Regions from separate parts of the Homo sapiens genome. Here region 2 is linked to region 1. The links come from fine-mapping of genetic effects on gene expression. A gene starts in region 1. The other region holds a variant in brackets. All regions are shown on one strand. Distances are from middle to middle.

Region 1 (4,411 bases):
CCCATAGGGTTGTGTTGCAAGAGTGGAACCCTGAGCTTAGGGGATCCAAATCTTTTGTAACAGGCAGTAAGAGTATCTGCCTATTGCTCCAGAGGGAGATACTATCTCTATGTCCCAAAGCCATAAGCAACCCTATCCTTTCTCTTGAAAGAGACAACATCTCTATCTTCCAGATATTTTCTCTTAGCAAACATCCTTGAAAAGATGGTGGAGAACAAAGGGTACTCAGTGCCTGCTTTGCAAGATGTGCAGAAACCCATAGATAATTGCTGCTTAACAATACTAAGCAGTGATTTCTGAGGGAGAGTTTAGAGGAAAGAGAGAATCCTCTCCTGGTGAGTTTTCTGGTGCTAAGGGAGAAGAGTCCCCTTCATGCTGGGTAGGAGAGTTTGGGGAGAGTGTCCAGTTACTTGTGCCCTCAAGGAAGAAAATTTCACCTCCTATTCTTCCTTTTTTTTTCTGTCCCAATCTCTCAATTTCTTGGAACTTGTTATAGTTGAGGTCTTGGCATTCGAAGACTTGACTTGAAAATCAATTGCCTTAAACATAATTTATAATGGGTGTCAGATTCCCTGACTATTCCTCTCACTGTCTCCCCAAAGGCCCTATTAACCCATAATGTATCTGATTTATAGAACATTCAGTTTCAAATGCATTGTAAATTAAATAAAGTTGGCAGGCTAGCTGGAGACCATAACCACCACTTACGGAGTGTCTCATGTGGGAAAATGTGTTCTTATTAATGAATCTATTTAACTAATGGCTTTATGAACCATGGCTTTTATTAAATTGCATCTTTTTATTTAATAATCACATTTTTAGAATGTTATTAGAGGAGGTTTACTTTTGCAACTGTCTATGAAAGATGGCACTATATTCTGCAGCAAAAAAAAAAAAAAAAAAAAAGTCATCCCAAGTCAAAAGCCTGGAGAAAAAGTAAAAAGTATCTAAAAGGGGATTAAAGCTAAGGGTGTATAAAACAGCATGCTCTCAGATTATCATAATTCTCTCCCTAGAGAAGCATGATGGCCAGAAAACAAGTAGTAAAAGAAAAAAATTAACAATATTTCACAAAACTCTGAAAAATTAGTTTGTAATATGTCAGGAAGGAAAAAAAACAGAATTATCTCTCTCACTAGAAAAGAATTCTAGTTTTGAGAACATCGCTGAGTATTCCCAGTTTACATTCAAATTCTCTTATGAAATGGGGGCTCTTGTTATACAATAGAACATTACCATTTGTCATTACCATAAAAATGTTCTCTGGTATTCCACTTTCAAGTTTGTTTTTGCTTAATTTTGCCCTATTTCACATAGCTGTAAAAATCTTTTACTATGTCTTTTCTTATCTGTTTTCCCATTTATAACTTATCGAACATTTTTAGCATTTCAGCATTTTTATATCATACTTATTTTTAGAATTTATGCTCCACCTTTTTTTGCTGGTTGAAAATTATCCAGTTAGTTATATTTTTCCCATATGGAGAGACAGAAAGCAACTAGCAAAGCCAAGTGGAATCTTTCCATGTTGTAGTGAAAGGGGCAATCACTATTTCTGTGCTCTAACAGATTGCTGACACTTTTTGTGTATCAAAGTGAGGTTTTCGGTAACTCTGCCACCTTTAACTGTCCTTTATTTTGCTGTTTTCATGAGATCTTATTTCATGTTGATCTTGGGGGAGAATACCTCCTGGTTCTTCTGTAATTGTGGTTCTCCATCTCTTATCTATCTTATTGTTGAATTTGTGACTTATTTTCCATATATCTAGGGCATATTCTTGAAATGTTTCAAAATGTTATTATTATAAAATATCAAGTTACTAAATTACTCTAGGAAGTAATTTCAAATATTATAATAAAGCTCATATTAATTAATACCCAAAACATAAAAATCTAAGTGAACATTATCTTCTTCAACATAACTGCCTTAAGAATTTCTACTTTAGTCCATTGATCTTGCCATCAATTAAAAACACTTTCAGGGATTCCTCTTAAAGGTTTGCATTTAGAACCTGCTGCTTTGTTTCAAATGAACCCAGTGGCAGCAAATCCTAATTTTTTAAGTGTAGACTTTAATTTTTGGATAGAGATAATTGTCATCAGTAGTCTGGTGAATTGATTAATGATCCAACTAGAGGACTATTTGGAAGAAAAAGTATCTGATTATAGGGAATCAGAGTAGTAGTCCTGCCTGACTAAACTGGCTCTGAAGACGACTTCAGAAAGAACATCCAGAAAGTTTTGAGCCTTCTCAGGGGCCATTGGCTGCCCACATGCCTCTGGCTCCTTCACAAATCCCTGGTTCAGCTGGTGGTTGTGATGCGTCACATAGTTCCTGGCATGCCATTGTCCTGAATTCACCTACTAATTTTACCCTCAGAGAAAGAGAGAGTCTTTGGAGAGTTGTGAGGAGATAAGTGACATAAACTGGCATGTTCTGAAAGAATCACTCTGGATGCTGTGTGGAGAAAACACTGAAAAGGTAAGAGTAGAAAATGGAGTAGATACCAGGAGTCTGATTAGGAAACTACTGCAATAATCCAGGCAAGAGATGATGGTGGCTTGACAAAGAGAGAAAATGGAAGTGGTGGGAGTGGTTGAATTCTGAACATATTTTGAAGATACAGCCAACAAATTTCCCAACCTTTGTCTAGACTGGGTCTCAACCAGAAGCAATTTTACCCCTCAAGGGGCATTTAGCAATGTGTGCAGGTATTTTTGATTATCAAAACGAAACATGCTACAGTCGTCTAGTGGGTAGAGACCAGGGTTGCTGCCAAGCATCCTATATTGCACAGAACAGCCTCTCACAACAAGATTTATCTGGTCCAAAATGTCAATTATGCTGCTGAGACTGAAAAACTGTGCTCAAGATGCACTTTGGGCATCCTACTGTATGTTTAGGAGTGCTATAAATTTTTTTCCCAGTACATTTTTTATTTTTTTCTGTTTTCCTTTTTTTAACTGATAAATAAAATTGTATATATTTATGGTATACAACATGATGTTCTGAACTATGTATACCTTGTGGAATGGCTAAATAAAGCTAATTAACATATGCGTCACCTCGCATACTTATCATTTTTTGGTGAGAACTTATCTATTCCCTCAGCAATTTTCAATTATACATTATTATTGACTATAGTCATCATGCTTAACAATAGATCTCCAGCACTTACTCATCCTGTCTAACTTTGGCCAATATCTCCCCATTCCCACACCACCACTCCCCACAGACATTGGCAACTATCATTCTACTCTGCTTCTGTGTGCTCAACATTTTTTACTTCACACAAAAGTGAGATCACACAGTATTTGTAATTCTATGCCTGACTTATTTACTTAACATAATGTCCTCCAGGCTCATCTACGTTGTCAAAAATGGCAGGATTTTCTTCTTTTTAAAGGCTGAATAGTATTCTAATGTGTATCTATGTATATAAAGGGACAAAATTAGAAAGAATATATATAACACTTTATTTGCCAATGGACATTTAGGTTGATTCCATATTTTGGCTATTGTGAATAATGCTACAACGTATTCTATGAATACATTGTATAGTCTATGAATACATTGTAGCATTATTCTACACATTCTATTCAATGTATTCTTTATCACAGTATTCTATTGTGTATCTATATAAAGCCAAAATTAGAAAGAATATATATATAACACTTTATCTGCTGATGGACATTTAGGTTGATTCCATATTTTGGCTATTGTGAATAATGCTGCAATGAACATAGGAGTGCAGATATTGCTTCAGCATACTGACTTGATTTTCTTTGGATATATACTCAGAAGTGAAATTGCTGGATCATATGGTAGTTCTATTTTTAACTTTTTGAGGAACCACCATACTGTTTTCCATATTGGCTGTACTAATTTACATTCCTACCAACAGCGTACAAGAGCTCCCTTTTCTCCACATTTATCTTTCATATTTTTTATCATAGCCATTCTGACAGGTACATAAGGTAATATTTCTTTGTGGATTTTATTTGCATTTCCTTATTGATAGTGATGTTGAACATTTTTTCATTTACTTGTTGGCCATTTGCATATATTCTTGTTTTGTTTTGTTTTGTTTTGTGTTTTGTTTTGTTTTGTTTTTTGAGATGGAGTCTCGCTCTGTCACCCAGGCTGGAGTGCAGTGGTGCAATCTCCACTCACTGCAAGCTCTGCCTTCCAGGTTCACGCCATTCTCCTGCCTCAGCCTCCTGAGTAGCTGGGACTACAGGCGCCCACCACCACACCTGGCTAATGTTTTTTTTTTTTTTTCAGTAGAGACAGGGTTTCAGTGTGTTAACCAGGATGGTCTCGATCTCCTGACCTTGTGATCTGCCCGCCTTGGCCTCCCAAAGTGCTGGGATTACAGGCGTGAACCACCGCACCTGGCCCATATATTCT
Region 2 (4,411 bases), 25 kb after region 1:
AAGGAAATCTTCTTTACTCAGTCTACCAATTCAAATGTTAAGGGTCCATAAAGACCCTCATTTGACATGCCCAGAAATAATATTTACCAGCTATCTGGGCATCCCTTAGCCCAGTCAAGTTGACACATAAAATTAACCACCACAGTCTACAATATCCAAAAAGACATGTATCTTCTTCTTCCTCAAGGGCACTAAGTAAAGTCTTTCTTTAGTTGAAACATGTGAGTGGGCTAGGAATATTTTAGATAAACTAGTTCTTACACCTCAAGCTAGTCAGAAGCTGTTCTCCAGTGCAAGCAGTTGTAAGACTTTGAATGTATTCTGGTCAGAGTAAGCAGAATGTGAAAGTAAACACTTGAAAATTCTTACCCATGTTCCCCTTCTCCAAACTCCTGTAGCCTTTCCCTCTTTTGTAAACCAGTCTGTCTTCATATATATGTTAACATCATTAATTATATTCTAGTTCCTTTCACATTTAATCATATTTCAAACATATTTCTAGGCCTTATTCTTCCAAATTTGATGAATAAAATATACATAGATTTGATAATTTCATAAATTACATGAAGGTTTTAGTAATTTAACTCTTAAAATTTAACCTTATTTTTCTAGTTCTGAGATAATCTTGTGCTAGCCTTCGGTACACTACCTCTAAATCTCAGTGGGTTACACTAATTTTATCTGTACATGTCTAATATTATAAGCCTTTGTGAAAACTACAACTCGACAAAAATAAGGTCCTTAGGCAACTCCTATAACCATTATTCACAGACAGTCAAATCTACTCTTGTTGAAGTGGAAGATTTTTGCAAAAACTTGACATTGTCCAAACTAAGCAGCTTGTTTGGAGCCTGAAGTGTAGATACACAGTCATCATTAATTGAGAAGTCTTCTGAAATTTTTGTTGTTGTTGTTTAACTTTGACTTTCTAATCTTTAGAATTTTTTAATGACTCAGAGAGACATTATTTTCTGGGGCTTCAAATAAGGTAGCAAGCTTTTATAATATATTGGCTGTAAGCGCTATAAAGATAAGTTCTTTTAAAAACGCCCTACATCATTTCCCCAGAAGCCATACTTGATCTTCTTTCTCTCACAGCCCACATTCAAACCTCTTAGGAAATCCTGATGGCTCTGCCATCAAAATATATCCATAATCTGAATACTCCTCCCTCCCTACCCCGAGTGCTACCACTGGTCTAGATCCTTGTATTAGTCCGTTCTCAAGCTGCTAATAAAGACATACCCAAGACTGGGTAACTTAAAAAGGAAACAGGTTTCATTGACTCACAGTTCAGCATGGCTGGGGAACCCTCAGGAAATTTACGATCATGGCAGAAGGCAAAGGGGGAGCAAGGCTCTTTCTTCACAAGGAGGCAGGAAGGAGAAGTGCAAGCAGGAGAAATGCCAGATGCTTATAAAACCATCAGATCTTGCGAGACTCACTCATTATCATGAGAAAAGCATGAGGGGAACCGCCACCATGATTCAATTGCCCTTGACACATGGGGATTATGGGGATTACAATTGATGGTGAGATTTGTGTGGGGACACAGAGCAAAACTGTATCAACCCTCATGAATTACTACACCCTGAATTAATATAATTACCTCCCAAAAACTGCTTTGTTTTTATCCTTTCTTCCCTGTAGTCAACACAGAAACAAAAGAGATCATTTTCAAACATTGATTTGTTCTCTTCTGCTCAAAACTCTATAGTGGCTCCCTATTTCGGAGTAAAAGCAAAGATCCTTACAGTGGCCTACAAGGCTCTGCATGGTC[T/C]ACTCCTCCATCCCATCCCCTGCATTACCTCTCTGGTCTCTTTCCCTGTCTCACTCCACCTAAACACATAGGCCTCCTTGTTCTTCTTCAAATATATCAGCCACTTGGCCACTTAAGACATACACATTGGTTGTGTCATTCATCTGCAATTATCCTTTACCTCTTTCAAGTCTGTATTCAATATCATCTCTTCAATGGGGCTACATGACCGCCTGATTTAAAATGGCAACTTTATCCTCTCTCTGGCACTATTGATCTCCCTTATCCTGCTCTGTCATCTCTTTCTCATAACACATCATCTTCTAATAAACTAAATAATTAGTTTCTTTATTGTTGACCCACCATCTCTACAATATAAGCTTCTTGAGAGCAGATATTTATCTGTTTTGTGTGGTGATATATCCCAACTACCTAGAACAGTACCTGGCTCATAGCAAGTGTTCAATACATATTTATGAAATGAAAGGATGGATGAAAATGTTCCTATTATCAGCTAAACCAGTTATGAATTTAGAGTTCTTTTGCATGTAACAAAAACATGATTGCTGTGGTTTATACAGGAGTTATTTTTTCTCATGTAGACAGTACCAGATTGCTTATCTTTAGACCCCATCACCCTTAGTATGGGGTTCCTTCCTTAGGTCCTTATGAGGGCTGCTGTACTTACAGACACTGTCCACTAGCTGAGTCTGTGCCTTTTCTGGATTCTTAGTCTAATGACTTCTGATTACATGTCATTGGCCAGGACAGGAACAATGGCATTTATAGCTGCAAGGAAAATTGTGGAGTGTCTATATTTTTTAATGGACATGTTGCATCCCATAACAGAAGATTAGAATTAACACATGTAAATGCTTAGAAAAATACACAACATAGAATAAATGGAGCATGTACATGTTAGCCATTACCATCATCTTTGTCTTTTTTTTTAATTCTGAAAGTGTTCTGTGAATATTTAGCCAATGAGAAAATTATAATGACTACATTGAATTAATAACAATATACTAAAGCTTTTAATTTATAAATAAAAGAATGATTAAAGTAGTTAAAATTCATTTGCTGTAAAGAACAAAATTGACAATAAGATCTGAGAGTTTAATTTTATGTAAAATCTACACATTAAATGCTACTTTGCTTTGAATCAGGTTAAGTGCACACAGATAAAGTCATACTTATGTATGTATTCTCAAATATTACTGATGTATTTATATGCAAATGCCTGTTATGCATCAAGAATTGTTCTAGGAACTACTCTATATTCTGTGGCCAAAACAGTAAAACCAAAAATGTCTTTCCAGAGTTTACATTCTAATCATAATAATGGTATGGAATTTATATTTTAAAAAACTCTATCTATAATCCCAACTCTCCAAATAACTTTCTAAATTAATTTACCTAATTCCTGAATATTAGAAAACTTCTAAAATAAACAACTTATTTAAAAATATGTTCCCCTGAGTTTGAGGCTGCAGTGAGCCATGATCATGCCACTGCACTCCAGCCAAGGCAACAGAGCAAGGCCCTGTCAAAAAATAAATAAATAAATAAATAAATCCTCTGTATCGTAAGTCTTAGATAAGAATATCATGCAAAGTGTATTTTCTTTCTCCATGTTACAGGATAAGCAGTCTATTTCTTCCAAATTTTATAAATAACTAGAGTTTATTTTGTATATGTATAGTGTACTTGCACATGTACACTAATATTTCATTTTGTTTTATTTTTAGCCTTGGTGTGCTATTCTTAACAAATTTATTTTGTTTAATTCATGTCTGTAAACATTTTATGTGTAAAGAACCTATTGATCTAGACCTAGAGAAATCATTTATTTGTAAAATTATTTTGCAGAGTCACAAATATTAAATAACATTCCTTTAAGTTACTCACAAATATATAGGATGAGTTTAGGAGTGGGGAGAAATGGAAAAAGGTAATTACATTTAAAAACCCATCATTTGGAATGAGCTGTTAGCTGAAACCAATCTGAAACTATTTTATATCTTACGTTAGGTCAAGTCTAAAATAGGGAACAATCATTTGGGAAGGAAATAAGCAACACAACTCAGAAATCCTATGAGAGAATTTTCAATAAAAAATTTATTTCAAATTACAGTATTTCTGTATTGTGGTGGGAAATCATCCTTACTAAGGTTATTTCTGGCTGTCAGGGACTTGGGCTCACTTCCTAGACCCCACTTGTACCCCAGGCTCCCTGTGCATCACTCCTAACACAGCAACCTTGGGCTCAGTCCCTTCACTTCTGAAAATTGCTGTTCTCATTATAGACCTATTTGGTGGAGATTGAAGGAGCTGTCTCAGCCCTCTTTTCAGCTATCAACTAGTACTTGCAGTTTCTGCTCACTTTTTGTTTTCTTCCCAGTCTTTGCTCATGATAGAAGCAAAGAGGTCAAAAAACAGCTCAATCGAAAACCTAGAATAAGGCTAATAGCCCAATTAGATTATGTTGTCAGACTTACAGCTTGAAATGTCAGAAAGTCTGAAGAACTGGTTAACCTATTACCTTTTCCCCAAACTGTTCACAAAATTGCAGTGTTTCAATCACAGGTATAAATCCTGGATCTCTCAGACAAAGAGTTCAACCACAGTAACAATGCTTTAAATAACCACCGT

Which allele goes with the higher level. Positions count from the first base shown, and alleles are read on the strand shown. Sizes are in standard deviations (SD) of each study's normalised expression.
For the expression in left ventricle of the gene that starts at base 2,407 in region 1, allele C in region 2 goes with a higher level than allele T (small effect, 0.29 SD a copy in GTEx).

Evidence for each region. PIP is the estimated chance that this variant, and not a neighbour inherited with it, causes the effect.
Region 2: its variant is the best candidate, but not a certain one, in a credible set for the expression of HRAT17 in left ventricle (GTEx, PIP 0.52).

Annotation. Positions count from the first base shown.
Region 1 is chr7:112,993,639-112,998,049 of GRCh38, reverse strand. HRAT17 (heart tissue-associated transcript 17) reads left to right here and starts at 2,407. Exons shown (of 6, transcript NR_110162.1): 1 at 2,407-2,482.
Region 2 is chr7:112,969,015-112,973,425 of GRCh38, reverse strand. All of the region lies in intron 4 of HRAT17 (heart tissue-associated transcript 17), which reads left to right. Among named protein-coding and RNA genes, the nearest start is that of HRAT17, 24 kb to the left of the region's middle. The variant T/C (reference allele first, on the strand shown) is at 1,781.